4 linked regions of the Homo sapiens genome follow. The protein of the gene in region 2 purifies or fractionates together with the protein of the main gene of each other region. This does not show direct contact. Each region holds a gene or a part of one and is shown on either strand. Other genes may lie near its edges. The genes, in order: SUMF1, IDS, MESD and GUSB.

Region 1 (6,849 bases), on a different chromosome or scaffold from region 2:
AATATTTCCTCCAAGGCCTAGCTCAAATGTGGCCTTTTTTTTTTTGAGGCACTACTCGACTTGTCCATGAAGAATTAATTCTTTCTTCCTCTCCAGGTACTCTGGACATATCCCTCCTATAGTATTCTCACTATAGAAAAATGATACTTATGTGTGTGTCTGTGTGTGTTTGTGTGTGTGTGTGTGTGTGAGAGAGAGAGAAACACCTACCAGAGTGTAAATGCCATGTGGGTAGTGTATGGGTCTTTTTCTGTATGCCCAGCACATAGGATGAATCTTACATAACAAGTGTTATATAGTAATGTGCCAAATAAACATTTGTTTAATTAAACCAAATAAACAGAAAACAAAGAGGGGAAAAAAGGCAGAAACACCACTATGCTCATTTACTTCTCCTGAAATATTGGAGTTCCTGAATTTAGAATAAATGGTAAAGTGTCAGAATTAGACCAAAGTCATCTGCACATGAACTAAAACATTTGAAACCAAGGAAAATAGAGAGATTAAGAACAGCCTCCTATGACGTCATTGTCTTGATAACAAGACTGCTTCAGTTTCAGTCATTAAGTTCAGCCCTTGAAGGCTTGAAGGTATATTCTCATCAACCACTAATTTGTTAATAAATTGAGATGCCCCTAAGCATTGTAGAAAGCAGACTATAAGAACTGGCCAAAGATGGCCCATATAGCATCCAGTCAAGACACAAAACCACTCTATAGGGATGAAAAATGTACATCTTGTAAATGTAATCCAAAAGATTCTAACATCCACATCCCATTCTGGAACCCAGAGGAAAATAGAATGTTTAAAAATGAAAAATGTTCAATGCTTGCCAGAGGAATCTAGATAAAATTTTGAGACAGACCAATGTATATATGCAAATGAGATGGCTGCCCTATTAAAAAATAGATAAACAGATGTAAGGATTTCTCCTTAGAAAGAGGGACAGACTGGCTTGGCGCGGTGGCTCACGTTTGTAATCCCAGCACGCTGGGAGGCCAAGGCAAGCGGATCACAAGGTCAGGAGATTGAGACCATCCGGGCCAACATGGTGAAACCCCATCTCTATTAAAAATACAAAAATTAGCTGGGTATGGTGGCGTGTGCCTGTAATCCCAGCTACTTGGGAGGCTGAGGCAGGAAGGAGAATCATTCGAACCCAGGAGGTGGAGATTGCAGTGAGCGGAGATCGCGCCACTGCACTCCAGCCTGGTGACAGAGCGAGACTCCGTCTAAAAAAAAAAAAAAGAAAAGAAAAAAGAAAGAGAGATTGATTATCAATTACCAGGCAAGTTAGAGAGGAATTAATATCAAGTATGGCCAATACACACTAAAACAGTAATCAGGAGTCTTCAACACACAAAAGATAAACAGTACTGCAGGACATGCTCTAAGGGTAACAGGAAAAAAAGTAAAGGCCAAAAATTATACAGGATGGAAAAACAATGAGAAGCCCAGGTATCAACCTCCTACACTCTACACCTGAGAGACTAAATCATGGTCCTGACCCCATCACCCTCACAGTCCAGTTGGGGAGAGACATCAGCAGAAAAACATCTTTAATAATTGTTATGTCAGAATAAACACATAACTACTGAGGCAGGATACGGAAATATTGAAGGGGAGAGAAAGAGGAGATCAGGTAAAACCTACTGTGGATGTTACCTCTCACCTAAGTCCTAAATATTGGTCAGGATTAACCCAAAGGAAAGAAAAATGGAATGGGAAAAGGATAGTGTCTGCTAAGTAAACAAGAAGGAGCACTAGTTTAGGAGTCAGAAGACCTGACCTTTAGACCCATAAGTTGTTTCGACAACACATCAATATGCAAAATACCGGGCAGACAGATTGAAGTAACAGTTATTTCTTTCTTTCTTTTTTTTTTTCGAGACGGAGTCTCGCCCTGTCGCCCAGGCTGGAGTGCAGTGGCAAGATCTCGGCTCACTGCAACCTCCGCCTCCCGGGTTCCAGCAATTCTCCTGCCTCAGCCTCCCGAGTAGCTGGGATTACAGGCGCCCGCCACCACGCCCGGCTAATTTTTGTATTTTTAGTAGAGACGGGGTTTCGCCATGTTGGCCAGGCTGGTCTCGAACTCCTGACCTCGTGATCCGCGCGCTTCGGCCTCCCAAAGTGCTGGGATTACAGGCATGTGAGCCACCGCGCCCGGCCAGTAAGTTATTTATATATCCCGGCACCTAACACATACAGGCGCTAAGCAAGACAGATAAATAATAGCAATAAAACAACTACAGTTTGCTTAGCCCTTCCTAAGTGCTAAAGTGCTAAGAATAGCAGGATAAACAATTCAAGCCCTTGTCCTCAAGCAGAGTGTACTCGAGGAGACTACAGATAAGTATACAACAACCCTGGTGAAGATACTGAGACCCAGGATCCTAATTTATTCCGTTAATAAGAGAGGAAATGGTGATTTAAACCATAATTTGATTGCCTTAAAATTATGAGATCCTCATTAAGAGAACAGGTTGGAGGGAGAAAGAAATAGGGGGTAAAGAAGTAACAATAACCCTCAAACCAAACTCCCTAATGGTCAATTAAATGGAGTCTTCCGGTGAGGCACGGAGAAGGAACTCCTCATACGGGAACAGCAGGTGCTCGATTTGGGGTGTGGTTATAACCTTTACTTCCCTTCCTACTAGTGCCTTGCTTTGCCTACTCCAACCCCGTCCAGGAACCGAGCAGCCCCCACCCGCCTCGGAGGAATCGATGGAGCACCTTTGAGTGCGCGAGTTGCCGCTCTCCGGGTACGGGGCCCGGAGCGTTAGCCTCCCGCGAGTATCGGTGAGCGGCTGCCGAACTGCCATGGGCGCCAGGCCGCTGGGGCGTGCCGCAGCCGCAAGAACCCGCAAGGGACCCCGCGCCCGCACCGGTCCCGGCCTCCTGGCTCCCTGCCGCTCCACACAGCAGCGAGAGCAGCAGCAGCAAGAGGACGAGACCCAGCTCAGGGCAACGTCCACACACCAGCCCTAGTGCGGGCGCAGCCATGTTGTCCCGCGGGCCATGTGACCCGGTTGGTCACGTGGCTGAGCCCTCCTTAAAGGGGCAGAATTTTGAGCTGACTTACGAAGTGACCAGGAGAGTTGCTCTTCACCTTTCTTCAGGTACTTCTTTGGCGCTGCTGCTTGCCTGTGCTAACGTCAAAACGCAGCAAAACACAAAACTCCACAAAACTCAAGGCCTTCCACAGACCGTGCACCCCTTTATGATTTCTTGGTTGAAAAATAACAGTCAAATTTGCTGGGCATTTGGTAAGTGCCAGAGTACTATGCTAAGCACTTCACTTTTTAAAATCTCATTTAATCCTCACAAAGACCCAGTAATGGCGCGCTTGTAGTCCCAGCTAGTCGGGAGGCCAAGGCAGGAGAATCGTTTGAACCTGGGAGGCGGAGGTTTCAGTGAGCCCAGATCCCGCCACTGCACTCCAGCCTCGGCGACAGAGCAAGACTCCGTCTCAAAAAAAAAAGAGAAATACAATACGGAATCAGAATCCGTGGGGACTGGACACAGCAATCCAGGGTTTCACAAGCTCTCCAGATGATTCTAATCCACACTTAAGTTTAAGAACCACTGTTCTACAGTTCCGTAATCGAACAAAATGCAAAACCAAAACAAAAAGAAGATGAAGGAGAAACTTACAGATTAAAAAACAACATAGCAGGCCGGGCGCGGTGGCTCAAGCCTGTAATCCCAGCACTTTGGGAGGCCGAGGCGGGTGGATCACGAGGTCAGGAGATCGAGACCATCCTGGCTAACACGGTGAAACCCCATCTCTACTAAAAAATACAAAAAATTAGCCCGGCGTGGTGGCACGCGCCTGTAGTCCCAGCTACTCGGGAGGCTGAGGCAGGAGAATGGCATGAATCCGGGAGGTGGAGCTTGCAGTGAGCCGAGATGGCGCCACCGCACTCCAGCCTGGGGACAGAGCAAGACTCCATCTGAAAAAAAAAAAAAAAAAAAAAACATAGCAGCCAGCTGCAATATGTGAACCTTATCTAAATACTAATTCAAACCTACTGAGTTCAAAATTTTTGAGATAATCAGGGAAATTTAACCACTAAGTCAAATTATAATATTTGATAAAATTAAGGAATTGCTGTAAATTTTGTTTTTAGGCTTTTAGGAGTAATAATGGTATTTGTGGCTATATTTTTTAAAAGAATCCCCTCACTGAGGTACACACACACTCACTGAGGTATACACACACACACACACACACACACACATATATATATATGGATAAAAATATAGGCAGTCAAAGATTTGCTTCCCAAAAAATGGGTAATCAGGGTCTGGCTAAAGATGAAGCATGATTGGCCATGAGTTGATAACTGTCATAGCTGGTTGATGGGCATCTGGGTGTTTATTGCACTATTCTAATGTAGCATCTGTTTGAATTTTTTTAGCATAAAGAAAAGACCAGCCAGGCACCGTGTCTCAAGCCTGTAATCCCAGCACTTTAGGAGGCCGAGGCAGGAGAATCGCTAGAGGCCAGGAGCTTGAGACCAGCCTGGGCAACACAGCAAGACCTTGTCTCTACAAAAAATTAAGAAAATTAACTGGCCATGGTGACGCACACCGGTGGTCCTGGCTACTTCGGAGGCTGAGGCAGGAGGATCACTTGAGCCTGGTAGGCAGAGGCTGCAGTGAGCCATGATTGTGCCACTGCACTCCAGCCTGGGTGACAAAGTGAGACCATCTCTCAAAAAAAAAAAAAAGGCCTTTTCTCCTTGTTGACTATTTTACAGTTTGCCAAGGCCTTTCACACATTTTCTCATTTGAGATTACAACCACTTGGCAAGAAATGTATTATTACTATACTCATTTCAAAATTGATGAAGCTAAAAGGTCAATGCCTTAACCAAGGTTGTATGTATTTACTGTGCATAATATATAGTCAAGGTCTAGGTCAACGGTAATCTTTGTTCGCCTCCTTCAAATATCAGTCTCAGCACATGCTGTGTCAGCTGCGCTTCAGAGACCTGAACTTCTTTGATTCCTGGTCCAGCTATACCATTAGGCTATAACCTCCATGAAGGTAAGGCAGGAGCCTATTCGTTTGCCACTGTATCAGCAAAATCAGGCCAAGCCTGCACATGATCACTCAGTGAACATTTATTAAATTATGGATAAGTGAATGAACAAATGAAGTAACGATTATCTCTTTCTCTTAAGGGGAATCAAATTGTGGAGAAAATAATATAGGTCTTAGACTCACAAAGAGCTGTGGTTAAAGCTGGCCACTTTACATGAAGTATGACCTAGGCAAATTATTTCAGCTTTCTGAGCCTCTATTTCTTCGTGTGTGAAATGGGAATAATAATTCCTTTTTCTTATAGATTTTATGGGGATTAAATAACACAAAGTATATAAAAGGTGTAGCCTGGTACCTGACATTTAACATATCTCAAAAATAACTTTGCTATTACTAATCATTATGAAAGATGGAACTTTGTTGGTTCTCCAGGACGATCATTCTTTTGTCTCAGGCTAACTTTTTAGTCAATAATCAATGAGTATGAGATCGATGAGAGATTTCTCATCAATATTTTCCACTCTAATATTTTGCTCCTGTCAGTGAGGAGGCTTGTTCTAAAAATTAAGAGGTAAAAAGTCCAACTCAGCCATCAGCTCGTACGAATTAGTGTAATTATATAAAATATCTCTCACCCTCCGTCTCACGTGTGAGCTCCTTCTGCATTTTGTAGCCTTTCTTGCTCCTTCTATCTCATGAAGCTGGGAGGATGAAAGACCCCAGTCCTGAAAGCAGCTTGTCTGCTCACTGAACATCAAAGAGTTCAGCATGGCTACAGTGGAGTGAGCAAGGGGGAGAGAAGAAAGGAAAGGAGATGAGAAAGGTAACATTGGGCCAAGTCATGGATGAAAGGAGAACAGAAAGGTAACATTGGGCCAAGTCATGGATGTTCTGGTAAGCTTTTACTGTGAAAGTTGGTGCCACTGCAGTTTTGAGAAGACATCTGACACTCTTCCTGCTGAGCAGCATCAATTTTCCCTCCAGGTTAGAGGCTTCTCTTGCTTTCTGGTTCCTGAACACAGGGAATGCAAAGTGCCCTGATGGTAGCCATGGCTTGTAGTTCAATGGGACCCTGGTTGTGTCCACAGAAAGACAGCATCCCTTTGTGGATCAGGACCTGCAGCTCTGCAGAGCTCAGAGTTGCAGGGATGGGAGAACAAAATCCCAGTAAGTCAGTAGGAGTAATAGTAAGTGGGGCTACTTCTACTTCCACCTCTTGGTGGAACCTATATATTCTTCCTACGTGGGAACAAGTCTGACATCTCTAATTGAGGGCGTATACTGCATCCTTATAGATGGCCCCATCTTTGCAGGAAATTGCATCCAAGCTGGCGTTTCAGCTGTGCTTTCAGTAAGCCATTTTCACCCTTTATGAGGCCAGCTGCTTTGGGTTCGTATTGTAAGGGATAAAACCACTGGATTCTGTGATCATGGCCTACCCCTGCACCTCCTTCACTGTGAAGTGGGTCCCCGGTCAGATGTCATGTGGTGTAGGAATATATGCCTATGCATAAGGCATTCTGAAAGCCCTCAGACAGTGATGCTGCCTGAGGCTCTTGGAGTAGGAAAGGCACAAGTCAAAATGTTATCTACTTCACACGTGCAGGACACTTGGCTCCACTTTTTGGGTTTGATGAATAATGTTGATATGAACATCCATGTACAAGTTTTTGTTTGCACATGTTTTCATTTGTCTTCATATATACTAGAAGTGGGATTGCTGGGTCATATGGAAATTCTAACCTTTTGGGTTTGGGTTTAAAAAAAAAAAAAAAACAGGATCTTGCCCTGCTACCCAG
Region 2 (7,027 bases):
TCGGGGAGGACGAGGCAGCCTTGACCCACGAGGGCTGATGAATGGGTAGGTTATCGGCAGGCTCCTAGGCCACCAGCTTAGAGGTCACATTGTCCCTTTTAGATTCAGTGTGGCGGGAATCTAAAAGGTCAAGGATCGAGAAGCCTGCAGGATGGCAACGTGAGGGAACCTGGCAGTGCGACCTCAGGAATCCACTCCCGGAACTCTGACTGGGGTGCCTGTGGAGGCTCTGAAGGTACAGCAGCCAGGCGCTCTGTGGCATTCTGAATACTGGCACGCAGCCTTCGGCCTCTGCCAGCTTTTGTGAGCTGCCCTGCACCAGGCAGAGGGGGCCCCCAGGCCTGGCACAGGGTCTGACACATGGCAAATGCTACAGAAATAGCTGTGGACCGCCTGACTGCAAGATCGTATTGAACATCTGGTGCCGGGCCTCAGCCTGTGCTGCTGCAGCCAGGAGCAAATACGGGGAAGTCTGGCTAAGGAGAACGCGTGCCTGTGTGGGCCCCAAGGATCCATCTCCAGATCAGGAGGAACAAGCCCGATGACCTTGACAGGCAGCTCAGGAGGTTTCTGGCTCCTGCCCCAGAGGCCCAAGATGAGGACGTGGCAACATAGGGAGGCCCAGGGAATGATGAGCTCAGGGAGAGGTGGCCAGACCACCTGAGACACCTGTTAAAGTGCACTTTCCCATGCCCAGAACTGCGAGCTCCTGAGACCAGTTGCAGAAACCAGCATGTTTTACTGGCTCCCAGGCGGTTCTGATGGAGGATGTCCCAGGAGGGGACTCTGAGATGGGCTATTTGTAATCTACGGCAACTGCCTCACAACAGAGTGTGTTCGTGGAGAAGAGGAAACTGGGCACCGAGGGCTCAGAAGCAGATGGCAGATAATCAGGAATATGTGAAAAATTATGGCACCTCCATATATAATAAAATATTACAGACATTTCTAAGGGAAAAGGTAGGCTTCTGAGAAATGACACAGAGATTGCCTATGACATTAAGTGTACAAAACCAGGGAACGTTAACAGTACACACAGAACAAGCAATCACATCTTGTGACATACATGTTACAAACATACACATGTATAACATATATCCCTGTGTGCATATGTGCACAACTGATGGCTGGCAGATGGATCCCTAATCCATTGTCATCTGTTAGCCCTGAGCAGGTGGGAGAAAAGGGCAGGATGTTCTGGCCCTGAATTACATGCTCTGTATCCTTTTTTCTTTTCATGATAAGCACATGTTATGATTTACTATTATCCTATTTCATATTTGATGATATGAAAATTATTTTCCTTTCTCTAAGTATAACAGTATTATGGTTATACTTCAAAAGAGGCAATATTTTTCAGAGACAGTGATCGGAAAATGGAACCATCTGGGATTTGCTTCGAAACAATTCAGAGATGGGGGAGTGGGTGAGGATGAGAGGAACAAGACTATGTGAGTGGGAAACGGGGGGAGCTGCTGTTTTATTCCCTGCTCTTGGAATGTTGAAGAATTTAAAAAATGCTTTTAAAAAGATAGTTTCATTTTTGGAAAAGTAGGAAACAGCCTTAGGGGGAGATAAAGACTTGAAAAGCCCAGGCTCTCGGCAGAGAAGACAGCGGGGATAGGGGTGGGAGGGCTGGAGCCAGGCGTGAAGAGCTTGCTGGGCTCTGCCAGGATTGTTCTGGATCCTCTCCACCCAAACTAAAAGTCCTCCAACCCTCCAGGTTAAAAATGGGGGTTACAAGAGCTCTGCCACACAAATGGAGGGTTCCTGCTGCATTCATCAAGAAAAAAAAAAAAGTTGCTGCAAGACCCTCCCCCACCCACCCACACCTATCCGTCAAGCATCTAAGACAGAGGTCTCAGGACTAACAAGCTGATCATAAAAATGCCCCAGGATCCCACTTTGTTTGTGAACCACTGGTTCACAAAAGAGAACACACCCATGTTTATGTCAATGGCAATTTTGCAAAGCATGTTTCACAGGAAAGTTCAGATGTTTTGACTCACCAGGGAATTTCAAAATGCTTACCATGATCCGAGGTAAATGCAATGATGGTGCTGTTGGCCAGCTGAAGATCGTCCAAAGCACTCAAGAGGCGGCCGACCTGTGTATCCAAATATGACACAGAGGCAAAGTAGCTCTGGCGGATTTTCCGCTGCAAATTGAAAAAAAATAAAAATGAGAGTGACTGCAATTTAAATTGCCAAGGCATACAGAGATAATGCTTGCCTGTGCATCTCTCCCAATCCCTACCCCTTAGTTGATGCCCTTAATGATTTTCTCAGCCAAAATGTAACACTCCTTTCCCTACCATCAGCATCACTTCACCCACAGAGTCACAGCAAAATCTGTAGGTCTACAAATAAGATACATTTCTAAGCAAATCAGATTTCACTTTAGGGCACAGATCACAGTGGATGAATGTGTCACCTACTGCTCTGTTGTTTTAAGCTGAAATGTATTGTCTCCTAGCTCTGGAGGCTAGAAGTCCAAGATCAAGGTGCTGGGAGGGCCATTCTCTCCCTGAAGGCTCTAAGTAGAAGAATCTTGCCTCTCCCTAGCTGGTGGTGGTGGCTGTCAGTCCCTGGCATTCCTCAGCTTGCAGCTGTATCACTGTGTCTCCATCTTCATGTGTTCTTCCCGTGTCTCTCTCCCCTCTTCTTAAAGGACACCGATCATATTGGATTAGGAGCCCACCTTACTCCAATATGACCTGATCTTAACTAATTACATCTGCAATAAACCTATTTCCAAATATGGTTACATTCAGCAGTACTGGGGGGTTAGGATGTCAACAGCCCTTTTCAGGGAAAAAAAAATTCATAATTTAACACATAACAGCAACCCTGACTGAGCCTTTCCCTCTGATCACTTGCTAACCCAACAGCAGATTACAACTGCATATCTTCATGAACTATGGCCGTTACGTGGAGCTCATTTCTAACAAACTGTCAGCAGGCAGGAGAAGAGCAAAGGAGATACCAGAGAGCAGCACGTCCTTCACAGTCCCTGAACCCAAGAGGCACTTTGGGAACAGCCAGATCATGCCCTGAAGTAAATGAGCCACCGGCCCCTCCTGGGCTGACTCTCATTCCCAACCTGGTTCACAAATGCTAAGGACAAAAATTAATCTTCCACCCCAAAGAGGGGTGAGAAGAGAGCCGTGTCTTCGCAGACCAGCCCCTGACTTATCAGCTGGACCCACCAGCTTCTTCTCATCACTGCCAGGGTGAGGACAATCATGAGACTCACCCGTTCTCACTTGCAGTCAAGAGAAAAGATATACATCTAGCCTTCCAGCAGGATTATGCTGAGCCCTGGCCTACTTATACTTTCTGGTAGATGAAGTCTTCAGTCTGAAACCTGTGGAACTTTGGTCCTCCTGGGGATGAAAGACACCTGTCAGGATGGCTATGTCCTATACAAAGGTATTCCCTCCTTCCTATGCTAGCCCCTGGACGTAAGGCAATAAGCAGACAAGGTCCTCACCCTTGATGAGCCACCCCATCCAGTGAGGACACAATCATGGAGACAAGAAAATGCTTAATTATCAGTGAGGCCTGCTGGGTCTGTCCTGCAGACCCTGGCCTATGGATGAAATGAGTACTCAGACACAGGTATGCAGCATAAGAGCAGCTAGGTTACTGCCTGGCTCTAGTGGCCAGAGAGCAGCCCCGAGAAGCTGGAGCTGCTGGCTTTTATTCAGTGCAGGCATAATGCCAAAAACCTAGAGCCAACCTGCAGGTAATTAACATTTATTGTTCCCCTTTCAGGGAACCTCACAAGCACAGACGATCAAAGGTCAGTTCCTGGTCAACATAAGTAAACAAGCCTGTTTAAGATAAATTCTCCCACACTCCCTTGTACCTACTCCTTGCCCTCTGCCTCAGGGTTATAGAACAGCTATTCTCCCCTGGGGCTCTGCAGAACCTTCTGACCTTTCAGAAGGTTTGCATCCTTTCCCTATAGTTTTTCCCACCACTCTGACCGATCCCCCACAGAGGCCCAGGGGTGACACAGGGGAATAAGCCCTCAAATCTGCCTGGGAGATTCAGGGAAGGCTTCACAGAGGAGTTAGAATTTGACAAGAAGCACCTGCAGTCAGACAAATGGGGCTCAGATGCTCCAAGCAGGGGCTGCAGGGCACGGAACAGTGTGGAGTTGTGACAGAGCAGGTTGCATTTGGGGCCAATGAAAGGCCCATGTGACTGGAGAATCAAATGGGAGGGCAGAGGGGTGACTAGAAAGTTAGGTCCGGGCCAGATAATATGGACCTGGTGGGTCTATCCAGGGAGTGGAGACTCCAAGTTCTAGGCCAATGGAGTCACTGAGGTCTTTCAAGGCGAGAAATTGACATGATCTGGGCTTCAAGTTATTAAGAGTCCTGTTGCAACAGGACACAGACACAGATTCCAGAGGCTTTAGACAAAATGGTACTAGGCCACTGCTGGGTACATAAGAGGTGCTCACTACACTTGCTGAATGAACAAAACAAAGCAAGGCCCACTGAGGTGGTCCAGAACAATGTGCTGAAGGATCCAGAGGACTGTGTGGATGTGAGAGGAATTCAGGGGCATCAAGCAGACATGGGGGCAGGGAGCAGAGGAGGAGGAGGTGTTGAGGAACCCAAGGGTGACTCCAGGTTTCACATTCAGCTGGTGGCATAATTCGCTGGCATTTGGGGGCAGGGGGCGCAAGAGGAGGAGGAGGAAGGAGAAAAGGCAGGGCAGGGGTGGTGGCCTGACCACGCGGAAGCCTATGGAGCTGAGGTCTCCAGGGTCATCTGCCTAGGAATGGCTCTCACAGGCAGGTCAACACACATATCTGAAAATCAGGAGAGACCTGGGCTGAAGGGGTAGTTCTGGAGTCATCTGCCAAGGCTCAACTGAGCCCAGCAGGGGAAGAAGAGGTGGAAAGGATATAGTGGGGGGCCTGGGAAGTGGCACCTAAGTGGCAGACACAGAAAGGATTGGGAGGCCAACAGTCCCAGAAGGGGTGGAGCTGGCCAACAGTGAGGAAGTGACACAGAGCTCAAGGAAGGTCAGGACCTACACAGATAGATTTTACTGGCCACCAAGGTCAGTGCTGAGGTGAGAGTTTAGTGGATTGGGGAGGTGGAAGCCTGTGTAGAGGATGGTGAAGAACAAATGGACAATGAGGCCACAGACACAGCCAGAACAGCCCAGTGTGCACTCGCTCTGCCTTGGAGGTCAGGTGAAGGAGTGGAAAGCAGAAACAGGCAGGGGCAAGGGGGCTGGCACTTTTGCAGCTGGGAGGGATGAGAGTGGATGGAGAGGCTGCAGGGTAGGTAGGTGAGAAGGAAGATCTTGCTCATTCTGCTTGCAGACGTGGGAAGCAGGGACAGTGGTGGGGAGTTGAGGGAAGAGGCCTCGAGCCCAGAACATGCATACACAAAATTCCAGGTCTCAGTGACAGAGATTATTAATAGAGCCCATTCAGCAAGTACACACTAGGTGGCATCTGATCCTGTGAACGGCACATTAAGGACTCCAAGACTCAGAAAGGTTAACTTGCCCAGAGTCACACAGCTGATAAGGGGCACAGCCAGGATGCGTACCCACATCCACCCTGTCCGATCCCCTACCTCTGGCTGTCCACCAGCTTCCATTTCTACAAGAGGAAAGGTGCTATCCACTGAGAAATGGGGCACAGGGGTGGCAAAGGCCTGGAGGGGAGCAGTGAAAGGGAGTAGAGAAGAGGTCATGCAAACGGAGCAGCTGCAGAGGACAAGTGAGGTGAGCTGAGCAGAGAGCTTGCCTGGGCTGCTGGGGCTGGAGGCGGGGCATCTGAGGGCCTCCCTGCTTCGTGGGGGCATGGATTTTCTCCAGCAGCTTTCAGGACTTGGACTACAGAGCAGAGGGTGTGGCTGGAGTGTCTGACGATAAAGGTACTGCAGGAGGGGCAAGGATAAATGGACAAGTATGGTGAGCTGGGCGGCTGGGAAGTACAGTAAGTCACCTGCCACCAGGCCTTAGCTATTTAGGGAAGCAACAAAGCCAACAGGACCTGGACACAAGGGGGAGATAGAAATCCATACTCTAGCAATCCCCGTGAGGTAGAGCAAGGGAAGTGCTAGGAGAAGAGGTTGTGGTCAGTATGGTGACTCGGAAGGAGCAGGCAACAAACTCCTGAGTGTGGCCCCTGAGGTCACTGGCTCATGTAGAGCTGAGTTAGAGGGCTGGAGCTGAAGAGATCCCAGAGCTGAGTCTCAAGGGTGCAGTGAGATGGGCTTGGATGCGGACATCCAAAGCTACAAGAGGACAGTGAGCAGGCCAGAGTTCAAGGGGAACACAGGGCTGAGACCAGCACATGCAGGCATCAGGGAGGCCCTCTGAGTCATGCTGTCCACTGTGTGTAAGGAGGGGACTAAGAGAACTTGAAGGAGATAGCTCCGTGCAGCCGACACGGTCCTAGATACTTCTACATGCTCTCTTTGGTTCTTGCTGAAAATCTCTAAAGTAGGTGTTATCATGGAAAAACTTTACCTACCTTGTTTCAGTTTTATAGAGAAGAAAACTCAGGGAGGCTCAGGGAGGTAACATGACTTGACAGAGGTTAGGCAGCTGGTATGAGGTAGAACATGAATTCGAACCCACACTGCTGGGAACCAACAGATCCAACCATGGGGCTTTGGAGTTACAGTCCCTGGGGATGAATTGGCTCCACCCAGCACTAATTTTGTGCTGTCAGACAAGTCAGCACACCTCCCATGCCTTGAGTTTCCTCACCTAGACAACAGAGAGCAGGTACCTCACTAAGTCCCCATGAGGACTAAAGGCGATACCACACATGAATCAGCGCCCTTCCTGGCACACAGTCCATTTTGAAGGGTCATTTTAAGTGACCATCACTAATAAAGCATCCAGGTGCAGCCTCAGAGCCAGTTCAAGCCACTTCACCATCAGGAGCCCAGAAACACAAAATTAGAAAACAAACAGATGGATGCATTGCTTTCCAAACTCTCAGTGAAACAGGAATCAAATACATTTGAGGAATGTACACC
Region 3 (7,027 bases), on a different chromosome or scaffold from region 2:
GGCAGCTTCGATCTGATCTGTATCTGTTTTATATTCTAGAGTGTCCAGTTACACTTTTATGGGACAAAAGACTTCTGCTGATAAAGGTGGAAAACCAATGGCTTAGAGTGGGTCATGATAAGAGGCTATGAAGGACTCAAGAGGACACTTGGTTGTTGGACAAAAATCCTAGCCCTTGAGCTTAGCAGCAAGCTGCCCAGCTCGTCCACACTCGAAAGGTCCCAAGGAACAAAGCGGAAAGAATGAGGCCTGGGTGGAGCCCTAGTGTGGCCAGCGGGCAAGATTCTTCTGTTCCTTAGGGACTACACCACGCGTTCCCCCTTCAGTTTCTAATGCTCCCACCACTCCACAGAGACCAGTGGGCCTTCTGGAGCAGACATCACCAAGACATTTATTTGTTCTGTCTAGGTGTCTATTTAAGCTAATTGAAAATATTTTGCTGGCCGGACACTCTCTAAGTACTCCTCCCATTTCTTGTCATTGCTTTTATATTTCCTAAACCAGAATATTTGCAGACCCCAAATTTCAGAACTGTTTTTGAGGAAAAAGAAGCAGATTTCTTAAAATTGTACCTCAGGACCATACTCAAGTGTGAAAACTGAGCCTCTTCATACTAAATTAGTTATCGGTTAACAGCATGGTCCAAGCTCTATGTGTGAACATAGCTACACACAAAGCACTTTCCACTGAGCAGAAACTTCTAGCTGAAGCTGTCAAACTATTAACTTTGTCCCTCAAAGAGTCTAAACTAAGCTATACACCCTTCTGTTCAGATGAAATAAAAGCTAAAGATCCAAAGATAAATAAAACTTTAGGATCAACTGAGATATTAAAAAAAAACACACACTAGGCATGGTTGCCAGTGACAGTAATCCTAGCACTTTGGGAGGTTGAGGTGCAAGGATCACTTGAGGCCAGCAGTTCAAGATCAGCCTGGGCAACATAGTGAGACCTCGCCTCTTCAAAAAATAAAAACAAAAACTTAACTGCTTTTACCAACAATAAATGCCCTTTTTTTTTTTTTTTCTTCCCCGAGATGGAGTCTTGCTCTGCCGCCAGGCTGGAGTGCAGTGACGCAATCTCGGCTCACTGCAACCTCTGCCTCCCAGGTTCAAGCGATTCTCCTGCCTCAGCCTCTGGAGTAGCTGGGATTACAGGCGTGCATCACCATGCCCCGCTAATTTTTCTGTATTTTTAGTAGAGACAGGGTTTCCCCACGTTGGCCAGGATGATCTTGATCTCCTGACTTCGTGATCCGCCCACCTCAGCCTCCCAAAGTGCTGGGATTACAGAAGTGAGTCACTGCACCCGGCAACGCTCTTCTTTACATTAAAAAAATCTAGATAGGCTGAGTGCAGTGGCTCACACCTGTAATCCTAGCACTTTGGGAGGCTGAGGCAGGCAGATCACGAGGTCAGGAGATTGAGACCATCCTGGCTAACACGGTGAAACCCCGTCTCTATTAAAAATACAAAAAATTAGCTGGGCGTGGTGGCAGGTGCCTGTAGTCCCAGCTACTCGGGAGGCTGAGGCAGGAGAATGGCGTGAACCGGGAAGGCGGAGCTTGCAGTGAGCTGAGACTGCGCCACTGCACTCCAGCCTGGGCAACACAGTGAGACTCCGTCTCAAAAAAAAAAAAAAAAAAAACAAACTAGATAGATAAATAATTTTAAAAGAAAACCTAGAAAGGAAAGGCAGAGGCCCTTGGGAAATACGGCCAGAAAGGACACCCTGTTAAGAGCCTCAGGAAAAGCCCCAGCACAGGGCCAGGTGTGGTGGCTCACGCCTGTAATCCCAGCACTTAGGGAGGCTGAGGCGGGTGCATCACCTGAAGTCAGAAATTCAAGACCAGCCTGGCCAACATGGTGAAACCCTGTCTCTACTAAAAATACAAAATTAGCCAGGCATGGTGGCGGGCGCCTGTAGTTCCAGCTACTCGGGAGGCTGAGGCAGGAGAATCGCTTGAACCAGGGAGGCGGAGGTTGCAGTGAGCCGAGATCACGCCGCTGCACTCCAGCCTAGGCAACAAGAGCAAAACTCTGTCTCAAAAAAATCATCATCATCATCATAATTAATAATAATAATAAAGAAAAGACCGAGCACAGCCTATGAGTCTCTCAGCTGGTTGTTGCTGCTTTACCTCTGGACGTCATAGTTGGCATTGAAAAGGCTGCCCTGCCAGAGGCTCGTAATTTCCTCTGTCTCCTTCTCAGTAGGGCTTCCTGATACAGTGACAAACATCATGAGAGTCTTCCCTTTTTTCGTCATTTTCAATATGCTTTCAGGCTTGCTTGGGTCTATCTTTGAGAAGTCGACAGGTGCTGAAGGTCTCTTGTGCTCTGGAAGATCTCCTTCTTCAATGTCATCATCTTTCTATCAGATTAGGGGAAAAGCATCAAACCTATCATCAGAATCTTGCTTTTCAACTGGCACAGGCAAAAACTTCTGCATGATGTCAGGTGCATGTATATGACTTAAATTACAACATAAAAAGGAAAACCAGGGGTTTTCTTCCTCTTCTTAACTTTCAAGATAGTCTAAGTTTCAGGCAGCACATACTACCCACACCCAGGTTACCAATCACAGAGCGCCCCCATGTGATGGGTTTCTAGAGCTTTTAAACTCTCATACAATCTACCCAACATGGTAGGCTGTAAAAATGGCCACATTCTGGTATGGTCACACAATGAAATACTTCACAGCAACAGAGAACAAATACTGATACATCTAACAAATCCCAAAAATGTTAAGTGACAGAAGCCAGATACAAAATAAGATTTACTATGCAATTCCGTTTATTTAAAATTCAAGAATGAGCAAAACTAATCTAGGGTAACAGAAATTAGAACAGTGTTGCCTGTAGAAGGGGGGACAAGGGAGGATTAACTGAGAATGGACACAAGAGAACTTTTCTGGGGTGATGAAAATGTTCTACATTTTGACAGGGGTGTAGATTACACAGATATATCCATTTATCAAAATTTATTGCAGGCCAGGCACTGTGGCTTACCTTGTAATCCCAGCACTTTGGGAGGCTGAGGTAAAACGATCACTTGAGGCCAGGAGTTCGACATCAGCCTAGGCAACACAGTAAGACTGTCTCTAAAAAAAAATTTAAAAGTAGCCAGGTATGGCAATGCACACCTGTAGTCCCAGCTACAGTGAGGCACACCTGTAGTCCCAGCTACTCAGTAGGCTGAGGTGGGAGAATTGCTTGAGCCCAGGAATTTGAGATCAGCCTGGGCAACATAGTGAGATCCCATCTCTTAAAAAAAATTTAAAAATTAGTCAGGTGTGGCGGCAGGTGCCTGTAGTCCTAGCTACTCAGGAGGCTGAGACACGAGGATCACTTGAGCCCAGGAGATCAGGGCTGCAGTAAGCTATAATTATGCCACTGCATTCCAGCCTGGGAGACAGAACGAGACCCTGTCTTAAAAGAAAAAAAAAAAAAGAAAAGAAATACTCCCTCTTTGCACTGTATACTTAAAATCTGCACTCCATGTATACCCATTTCACTTAATAGGCATTGTACAAAAATATTCAATTCCAGTTAGCAGGTTTGTTTTCTGTAGTGGTATGGGCTAGCAATTCTGAGACTATCTTATGTGACCTCTAGGATTGAGAAAAGGAGTAAACATATTGAGGGTAATGAGAGCCAGGTTCTTAACTTCTGGGAAGTAAGTTACAAACATGAAAGGGGGAAGAATGAGCCCTGTGGTATTAGGCTGGAATTGAAGGTATCAGGAGAAACTCATGGTTTTTCATAGATTAACAGATGAGTAAACAGATTAATGGATAAAAATATTTAAAAGAGCGTGGGTTCCTTGGAGAACAGGCTTATAGCAAGAGAGACAGAAGATGAGCCTAGAATAATCCCGCATCACAAAGTAGTAAAGTGCTCAAAGAATCGTGAACATGTCAAAATGCCATGGAAGCCAACTTGAAGCAGCTCTCATGGGCCAAAGTTGAAATAATCTCAACATCAAAATAAATAATAGTATGACTTACAACCCCTCAAACAAAATGAGATGTTGAACCCATAATGATCAAAACAAATGAATAAATTACTAATAGAAAACAGTAACTTTTTTTTTTTTTTTTTTTTTTTTTGAGATGGAGTCTCACTCTGTCACCAGGCTGGAGTGCAGTGGCACGATCTCGGCTCACTGCAACCTCTGCCTCCTGGGTTCAGGCGATTCTCCTGCCTCAGCCTCCCGAGTAGCTGGGATTATAGGCACGCACCACCACATCCAGCTAATTTTTGTATTTTTAGTAGAGACGGGGTTTTGCCATGTTGCCCAGGATGGTCTCGATCTCCTGACCTCGTGATCTGCCCACCTCGGCCTCCCAAAGTGCTGGGATTACAGGCATTAGCCACCATGCCTAATAAATAGCATATAGACTGACAAATAAAAAATCTTTAATAGAACCAGGTTCCTTGGAGAAAAGGCTAATGCCAGCAACCAAAAAAAATGAAGTACTGGCTGGGTATGGTGGCTCACAACTATAACCTCAGCACTTTAGGAGGTCGAAGCTGGAGATCACCTGAGCACAGGAGTTAAAGACCAGCCTGAGCAACATATCATGACCCTATCTCTACCAAAAAGAAAAAGAAAAAAGAAAAAAGAAATGAAGTACTGATTGATACATGAAAATATTATGCTAAGTGAAAGAAGCCAGATATGAAAGACTACACATTCTATGATTCCATTTATAGGAAATGTCCAGAATGGATAAATCTGTTGAGACAGAAGGTAGATAAGCGATTGCCCGGGGCTGGCTAGGGAGTTGGGAGAACACAGGGGAGGAGTGGTTGAAGGTTTCTTTTGGGGATGATAAAAATGTTCTAAAATTGAGTTTGGTGATGACTGTACAATTCTCTGAAGATACTAAAACTAAAATGTACACTTTACATGGGTAAATTGCCTATGGCATGTGAATTGAATCTCAATAAACCTGTTACCAAAACAAAAAACAAAAAAAAGCCCCTAAGTCACTCTTACTGAACAATATCTGAAGGGCCAAGGCTTAAGATACCATTAATAATGTACTATATTAAAAATAATTTTAGTAAAAAGTAAAAACGAAAGAATTCTACGCAGTGCTTGAAGGTGATCCATACCGACGTCAGACCTGGAATCTGGTTTCAGTTTTGCATAACTAGCTGTGTGACCCTGCCTAAGAATCCTTACGCCTCGAGGCCTGTTTCCTCATTTACAAAATGAAAAGCAGAACGAAGTGATCTCCAAGGCCCCAGTAACATGACCACACATAACACACTAACCTTCTTTTCCACTCTGCCACCCTCTCAACTGACATGTTTCTTCCTCACTTTGCTTTCAAAGAGCCACTGATGGTGACTTGCAGACAGGAGCATGGGCTGTGCTGTCAGACGGATGCGCTCCATCACTATGTGGCCTTGGGCAAGTTACTTAGCCCATCTGAAAATAACTTTCCTTACCTATAATGGAAAGCTGAGGGTAATAACAGCTTCTCCCTCCTAAGGTTTGTTTGGGGATGTAATGACTTAAAGGCAAGCAGAACTCAGTACTGTATCTGTTGGCTATGACACTGCTGACTCTTTAGGCCTCTGTGATCTGGCCTCCAACCACAATCACTGCATGGAAATTATACTCTCAAGTCACAAAGGACCTCCTAGTTGCCAAATTCACAAGTTGTTTCTGTCTTTATCTTAATTCTCCATAACATCGGTTATAGTCTCTTTAAAACACTTCAAGACTTCCAGTTGGTTCAATACCCTAGAATATTTGTATTTTTCAGATTGATTTCACTAATAATCATGAAATTAACTCAGTAGGTCCCAAGCAGCTTTTTTTTTTTTTTTTTTTTTTTTTAGATGGGGTCTTACTCTATTACCCAGTTTGGAATGCAATGGTGCTGGTGCAATCTTGGCTCATTGCAACTTCTGCCTGCCAGGCTCAAGTGATCTTCCTATCCCAGCCTCCAGAGTAGCTGGGACCACAAGTGCATGCCACCACACCTGGGTAATTTATTTTTGTATTTCTGGTAAAGACGGGTTTCACCATGTTGCCCAGGCTGGTCTCGAACTCCTGAGCTCGAAGGATTCACCCGCCTCAGTCTTCCAAAGTGCTGGGGTTACAGGCATGAGCCACTAAGCCCAGTCCAGCACTTCTTTGTTAATGCAAATATAATTAAATAGTCGTAAGTCTAGTGCATATAATACAGGTAAAAATTGTTTCAAGAGACTTAAAAAAAAAAGCAGCTTTAATTTCCATTGTATATGTGTGTGTGTGTTTCAGTTACAGAAAAGAAAATTGCAAAATAGTACCCTAATGAGCCTGGAGGACATTATGTTAAGTGCAATAAGCCAGACACAGAAAGACAAATACCGCGCATTCTCCTTCGTATGCGGACCTAAAATAGTTGTGTTCACATAAGTGGAGATTAGAATTGTGGTTACTAGAGGCTGGGAAGTGGAGGGGAGATAGGGAGAGAGGATGGTGAATGGATACAAAATTACATTAGATAGGAAGAATAAATTCTAGTGCTCTATAGCATTGTAGGATGACTATAGTTAACAATAATTTATTGCATATTTTCAAACAGCTAGGAGAGAATTTTAAATGTTCCCAACACAAAGAAATGATTAATGTTTAGGAGACAGATATGCTAATTACCCTGAATTGACCATTACATTTTATACATGTGTAGAAATACAACTCTGTACCCCATAAATATGTATAATTATTATATGTTAAAATTGAAGTGTAAAAATAGTACCCTAGATGTACATAATTATCCAGTTCTACCCTTAGTCTGGGTAACCTAACCTGTTATGATCAGTGTGTTTATGCTGAAAACAATCCAGTCTTTACCCTGAGGCAGAGCGGGGGGCCAGGGACAAGTCAGGCAGTCCCCTGACTCCAGTCCTAGCCCTGCCTCCAGGCCAGTCTTGCATTTTCAACTGGCTTTAGAGCTCCTTCATTACTGTTTGTCTAAGTCAGTAGCTACAAAGCTGAGCTCCCCTTTCTGCAAATCCTCTTCT
Region 4 (7,027 bases), on a different chromosome or scaffold from region 2:
TTCAAGACTAGTCTAGGCAACACAGTGAGACCCAGTCTCTACAAAAAGTCAAAATATTAGCCAGGTGTGGTGGCGCACGCCTGCAGTTCAAGCTACTTGGGGCTAAGGAGGGAGGATCGCTTGAGCCCAGGAGGTTGAGCAGTGAGCTGTGATTATGCCACTGCACTCCAGCCTGGGCAACAGAGTGAGGCTGTCTCAAAAAAATTTATTTAATTAAACTAAATCAATTCAGTTATCCTAGTCATATATCAAGACCTCAGTAGCCATGTGTAGCTAGTGTGTACCATTTCAGACAGTGCAAATATAGAACATTTCCATCATTGCAAGTTTGTTTTTTTTTATTTTTTGAAACAAGGTCTCACTCTGTCACCCAGGTGGGAGTACAGTGGTGCAATCATAGCTGAATGCAGCCTTGACCTACTGGGCTCAAACAATCCTCCCACCTCAGCCTCCCAAGTGGCTTGGACTACAAGCACTCATAACCATGCCCAACTAATTTTAAATTTTTTGTAGAGATGGGGTCTATGTTGCACAGACTGGTCTCAAACTCCTGGGCTCAAGAGATCCTCTGACCTTGGCCTCCCAAAGTGCCAGCATTCCAGGTGTGAGCCACCATGCCCAGCACTGCAGAGGTTCTATCAGCACTGACCTAGACCCTCTCAAGAGTTTCTTAAGAATTCAGAGCTAGGGCTTGGCACGGTGGCTCATGCCTGTAATCCCAGCACTTTGGGAGGCCAAGGCGGGCGGATCACTTGAGGTCAGGAGTTCAAGACCAGCCTGACCAACATGGTGAAACCTCATCTCTACTAAAAATACAAAATGAGGTGGGCGTGGTGGCGCATGCCTGTAATCCCAGCTACTCGGGAGGCTGAGGCATGAGAATCGCTTGAACCAGGGAGGTGGACATTGCAGTGAGCCGAGATCGCGCCACTGCACTCCAGCCTAGGCAACGAGAGCGAAACTCTGTGTCAAAAAAAAAAAAAGAATTCAGAGCTGGTTACCTTTTCAAAGAGGATGCGCAAGCAAATATATCCAAGAGCCACTTCCCCTACTTGACTAGTTTGCAGAAGTGGCATTCTGTAAGCACGATAAATTTAAGGGTGCAAACAGAACAGCGCAGTCCACTGTGGGTGGCTGTTCCCTGTGTGTCAACCAGGAGCTGTGACAAACAAGTGTGAGCTGGCTGGGGTGGGAATGAGGGGCTGGATGGGGTTCAGGAATCCACAGGAAAAAAAAAACCTCACAAGACAAACCAACATATCTTTGGTGAGGAGGACAAAAAAATGAGATAGATTAAAAAAATGACGACAGGCTGGGCATGGTGTCTCATGCCTGGATTCCCAGCACTTTGGGAGTCTGAGGCAGGACAATCACGTAAGGCCAGGAGTTCTAGACCAGCCTGATAGACTCCATCTTTACAAAAAAATTTAAAAATAGGCTGCACATGGTGGTTCATGCCTGTCGTCCCAGCTACTCAGGAGGCTGAGGTGGAAGAATTACTTCAGCCCTTTAGTTCAAGGCTGCAGTGAGCTATGATGACACCACTGCACTCCAGCCTGGGCAACACAACAAGACCCTGAAAAAAAGAAAAAGAAAAAAAGGCTAGCACAGTGGATCATGCCTGTAATTCCAGCACTTTTGGAGGCCAAGGCAGGAAGATCAATTGAGTCCAGGAGTTTGAGACCAGCCTGGACAACATAGCAAGACCCTATATCTAAAATATGAAAATTAAGAAAAAGGATATTTTAGTTGGTGATTATGGTGCCAACATGGGCATTCCAGGCAGAAGAAACAGCTCAAGCAAGAGCAGGAGAGCAAGCGAGGGCAGTGGAAACAGATCAGTGGCTGGGATAGAGGGGAGAAGGGGATGAAAACCCAGGAGAGAGCAGAGGACACTGAGTGTCCTGACCAGAGGTTAGGGCTTTGTCCTGTGGGCCTGGGGGAGCCAATGACAGGACTCCCAAAATTTTCAACTGTGGCTGGTGCAGAGGCTCACACCTGTAATCCCAGCACTTTGGGAGCCTGAGGCAGATCACTTGAGGCCAGGAGTTCAAGACCAGTCTGGGCAACATGGCAAGACCCCATCTCTACAAAAGTAAAAAAATTAGCCAGGCGTGTTGGCATGTGCCTATGGTCCCAGCTACTCAGGAGGCTGAGGTGGGAGGATCACTTGAGCCCAGGAGGTTAAGGCTGCAGTGAGCAGTGATCGCACCACCACACTCCAGCCTGGGTGACAGAGAGATCCGGTCTCAAAAACAAATACAAATTTGGATCTGTTAGAAAGACCACTTGGGCACGGGTGATAGGAGGCTATCTGGAAACAAAGCCAGTAAGGAGGCCACCTCTGAGGACCAAGTGAGTGGGGCACAGGCCTGGCTGTTGGCGGTGAGGGAACGTGGACGGGGCCGTGGGAGGAGAGCCCAAAGCTGAAGCGAGGGGAGCAGTGCAGTGGGCGCAGGTCAGGCTGGAGGAGGTGAGTGACATCTCTGCCCTGAGAGAACACACAAGCAGAAAGCTCAACACTGCTTACCTGGTGAAACCCTGCAATCGTTTCTGCTCCATACTCGCTCTGAATAATGGGCTTCTGATACTTCTTATACCAGTTCTCAAACTGGGTGGCCAGCTGCAGCTGAATCAACTCCAGGTGCCCGTAGTCGTGATACCAAGAGTAGTAGCTGTTCAAACAGATCACATCCACATACGGAGCCTAGGACCAGAGCAGCAGAGCCCGTTCAGCACTCAGTAGACAGCATGACTCAGCATTCACACACTGCGGGGGCTCCTCTGGCAGAGAAGGTAAGGGGGATGTAATCCCAGCACTCTGGGAGGCTGAGGCAGGAGGATGGCTTAAGACCAGCCTGGGCAACACAGCAAGACTGCAGCATTACAAAAAATAGTAGTAAGAAAATTAGCAGGGCACGGTGGCTCATGCCTGTAATCCCAGCACATTGGGAGGCCAAGATGGGAGGATCACTTGATCCCAGGAGTTCGAGACCAGCCTGGGCAACATCACAAGCCCCCATTTCTACCAAAAAAAAAAAAAAAAAAAAACCTAGAACGGGAACAGCTGCCTCCTGGGGCTGAGAACGTCCAAGTGTACCAATTTAGATCCTGAAATTACCCTGCCATAGGCAAGAAACATGGTCACAAAGTGGCCCAGAGGAGGTAGGCCTGGGACTCCACACTGACACTCATGACGTGCGCCGCTGGGAAGGGCTGTGAGAGGCACAGCAGCTGCCAACGCACAGCCCTCAGCCAAAGCCCAGGGCCCCCACCACTGGAACTGACTCCTCTCCAGGCAGCACTCCCATCACTGGGCTTCCCCTCACCTTGCCCTGGAGAAGCGCTGCCACCCGAGGGGCCGATGCAGTCATTCTCACAGAAAATCTTTTGTTTTGTTTTGGAGACAGAGTCTCGCTCTGTCGCCCAGGCTAGAATGTTAGTGGTGCGATCTCAGCTCACTGCAACCTCTGCCTCCCACCATCAGGTGCTTCTCATGCCTCAGTCTCCCGAGTAGCTAGGATTACAGGCGTGCGCCACCACGCCCAGCTAATTTTTTGTATTTTTGGTAGAAATGAAGTTTCACCAGTTGGCTGGGCTGGTCTTGAACTCCTGATCTCAAGTAATCTGCCTGCCTCGGCCTCCCAAAGTGCTGGGATGATAGGTGTAAGCCACCATGCCCGGCTGTCACAGAGGATCTTGAGGGAGCTTTCACAAGGCAGCACTGTGGACTGCAGAGGGCCAGAAAAGTCACTCCAAGGAGCAGGGCGGTGACGACCGAGTAGGACCACCCCAAGCTTCAGCATAGCGGTGCTTACAGCTGAGCAGCAGGGGCTTCTGTGTCCAACTGGCTAGTTTCTAATGCGTCCTGAACACATTTCTTTCTAGTAAAAATGCTGGCCGGGTGTGGTGGCTCACGCCTGTAATCCCAGCACGTTGGGAGGCCAAAGTGGGCAGATCACCTGAGATCAGCAGTTTGAGACCAGCCTGGCTAACATGGCAAAACCCCATCTCTACTAAAAAATACAAAAATTAGCTGGGTGTGGTGGCATGCACCTGTAATCCCAGCTACTCAGGAGGCCGAGGCAGAATTGCTTGAACCTGGGAGGACGAGGTTGCAGCGAGCTGAGATTGCACCATTTCACTCAAGCCTGGGCAACAGAGCAAGATTCCATCTCAAAATAAATAAATAAATAAATAAAGAATGCTAATGTCAGCCAGGCACTGCAACTCATGCCTGTAATCACAGCACTTTGGGAGGCCAAGGCAGGAGATCACTTGAGCTCAAGACTTTGAGACCAGCCTGGGCAACATAGAGAGATGCCACCTCTACAAAAAGATATAAAATTAGCTAGGCGCAGTGGTGAAAACCTGGAGTCCCAGCTACTCGGGAGGCTGAGGCAGGAGGATCACTTGGGCTCAGGAATTCAAGGCTGCAGTGAGCTGTGATTGCACCACTGCACTCCAGCCAGGGCAAGAGAGTAAGACCTTGCCTCTACAAAAGAAAAAGAAAAACTCAAGTTCCAACCCTGGACGTACTAAATCAGGACCTCAGAATGCAGAGATCTGGCATTTCATAAAAACTTCCCCTAGAGATTCTCATCAGCCAGGTGTGGGCCAGATGAACTCTAAGCTCCCTTAAATCTTTGATGTTTTATGAGTCTATTAAATCGAAGTGCAAAAAATGCTGAGTCCAAACTGAGCAAACAAATCCCATCTCCCTATGCCCAGCCTCCTTGGATTGAGAAAGCCACACTGCCTGGCGAGTAAGCAGGGGGAGAATTCTCATTAACCCAAAGACCATCTGTGAAAACAGACTGGCTGCGGCCGGGGTGTGGTGGCCCACACCTGTAACCCCAGCCCTTTGGGAGGCCAAGGCAGGAGGATTGCTTGAGCCCAGGAGTTGGAGACCAGCCTGGGCAACATGGCAAGACCCTGTCTCTATCTTTTTAAGTAAAAAAGAAAATGAAATAAAACCCAGACTGGCAGCGCATGGTTCTTCCTGGCTGTTCCCATGACCAGGCTTCAGGACAAGCCCAGGCAAAGGCAGGGAGAAGTGGGGTGGGGACCCCCAGGCTCACCCCCTTGTCTGCTGCATAGTTAGAGTTGCTCACAAAGGTCACAGGCCGGGAGGGGTCCAAGGATTTGGTGTGAGCGATCACCATCCTGTCCACAAAAGGCAGAAGAAACAGGTTCCATCAGTCCAGGAATGGCTCAGACACCCTCCCATCCTCTCTGTCCCATCTTCCACCGCCAGAACACAACACGGGGCCAGGCACGATGGTTCACACCTGTAATCCCAGCACTTTGGGAGGCCGAGGTGGGTGGATCACTTGAGGTCAGGAGTTCAAGATCAGCCTGGCCAACATGGTGAAACCCCAACTCTATCTACTACAAATACAAAAATTAGCGGCCAGGCGCAGTGGCTCACGCCTGTAATCCCAGCACTTTGGGAGGCCGAGGCGGGCAGATCACAAGGTCAGGAGATCGATACCATCCTAACACGGTGAAACCCCGTCTCTACTAAAAATACAAAAAATTAGCCGGGCGTGGTGGCCGGCGCCTATAGTCTGAGCTACTCAGGAGGCTGAGGCAGAAGAATGGCGTGAACCCAGAAGGAGGAGTCTGCAGTGGGCCAAGATCATGCCACTGCACTCCAGCCTGGTCCACAGAGCAAGACCCTGTCTCAAAACAAACAAACAAAAACAAAGGGGAAAAAAAAAAAAGCATGGAGCCGCTGCTTTCTTCCCTAACTTGAGATGTATTTTACATAAGGGCATATGATCCTCTAGTCCTAGACCGAGCTCTCTAACATCACTCCTTCTACCCCCATCTCCGAATCCTATACCCCCAGAGGAGCAGCCACTCTTCCAGGTACACAGAGCTGAGGTCACTAGGCTGGACACTGGCAAAAATGAGGTTGACGCCCTGAAACAGCTCTTGAACACAGGAGGTGGATGGATGCAGATTTGGGAGGGATATTTATTAATGCATCAAGCAAACGGAGTGCAGGCTGGGAGGCAGGCATGGGGCTAGGTGCGAGGTGCTCAGCAGTGACTCAAATCTAAGTCCACAGGTCCTGGGCAGTGGGAGTGGAGACGCATGCAGAGAAATGGTGCAAGTGCCGGGCAAGGCGGCTCACGCCTAGAATCCCAGCACTTTGGGAGTTTTACCAGAGACCAGGAGTTCAAGACCAGCCTGGGCAACATAGCAAGACCTTGTTTCTACAACAAATTTAAAAATTAGGGGCGGGCATGGTGGCTCACGCCTGTAATCCCAACACTTTGGGAGGCCGAGGCGGGTGGATCATGAGGTCAAGAGTTTGAGACCAGCCTGGTCAACATGGTAAAAGTCTATCTCTACAAAAAAATACAAAAAAAACCTAGCTGGGCATGGTGGCATGCGCCTGGAATCCCAGCTACTCATGAGGCTGAGGCAGAAGAATTGCCTGAACCCAGGAGGTAGAGGTTGTAGTGAGCCAAAATTGCACCAGTGCTCTCCAGCCTGGGCAACAAGCAAGACTCCATCTTGCGGAAAAAAAAAAAAAAATTTAAACTTAGCCTGACATGGCCGCACACACCTGTGGCCCCAGCTATTTGGGAGGCTGAGGCAGGCAGATAACCTGAGGTTGGGAGTTCGAGACCAGCCTGACCAACACGGAGAAACCCCATATCTACTAAAAATACAAATTAGCTGGGCGTGGTGGCGCATGCCTGTAATCCCAGCTACTCGGGAGGCTGAGGCGGGAGAATCACTTGAACCCAGGAGGCAGAGGTTGTGGTGAGCCGAGATTGTGCCATTGCACTCCAGCCTGGGCAACAAGTGCAAAACTCCATCTCAAAAAATAAATAAATAAATAAGAAGAAATGGCCCTTAGAAGGGAAGAAAAACCCAACAGAGGGACCCGTCTGTGCTCAGAGCTCCTGGCACCTGCCCGAGGCCTCCACAGTACAGACTGTTTTTGTTTTTGTTTTTTTGAGAGACAGAATCTCACTCTGTAGCCCAGGCTGGAGTGCAATGACATGAT

What was found.
Region 1: the proteins of IDS (region 2) and SUMF1 purify together in Homo sapiens (affinity purification with mass spectrometry; 4 studies listed by BioGRID and IntAct, with this or other methods). This does not show direct contact.
Region 3: the proteins of IDS (region 2) and MESD purify together in Homo sapiens (affinity purification with mass spectrometry; 3 studies listed by BioGRID and IntAct, with this or other methods). This does not show direct contact.
Region 4: the proteins of IDS (region 2) and GUSB purify together in Homo sapiens (affinity purification with mass spectrometry; 3 studies listed by BioGRID and IntAct, with this or other methods). This does not show direct contact.

Annotation. Positions count from the first base shown.
Region 1 is NC_000003.12:4,464,243-4,471,091, forward strand, and holds the start of SUMF1 (formylglycine-generating enzyme isoform 1 precursor), read right to left. Parts: upstream 3,028-6,849; 5' UTR 3,004-3,027; coding exon 2,734-3,003; exon of another isoform or gene 2,582-2,733; intron 1-2,581.
Region 2 is NC_000023.11:149,488,283-149,495,309, forward strand, and holds part of IDS (iduronate 2-sulfatase isoform a preproprotein), read right to left. Parts: intron 3,386-7,027; exon of another isoform or gene 3,256-3,385; intron 2,159-3,255; coding exon 2,032-2,158; intron 1-2,031. UniProt on the Homo sapiens protein: Lysosomal enzyme involved in the degradation pathway of dermatan sulfate and heparan sulfate.
Region 3 is NC_000015.10:80,979,810-80,986,836, forward strand, and holds part of MESD (LRP chaperone MESD precursor), read right to left. Parts: intron 2,374-7,027; coding exon 2,141-2,373; intron 1-2,140. UniProt on the Homo sapiens protein: Chaperone specifically assisting the folding of beta-propeller/EGF modules within the family of low-density lipoprotein receptors (LDLRs).
Region 4 is NC_000007.14:65,965,201-65,972,227, forward strand, and holds part of GUSB (beta-glucuronidase isoform 1 precursor), read right to left. Parts: intron 5,167-7,027; coding exon 5,082-5,166; intron 2,708-5,081; coding exon 2,531-2,707; intron 1-2,530. UniProt on the Homo sapiens protein: Plays an important role in the degradation of dermatan and keratan sulfates.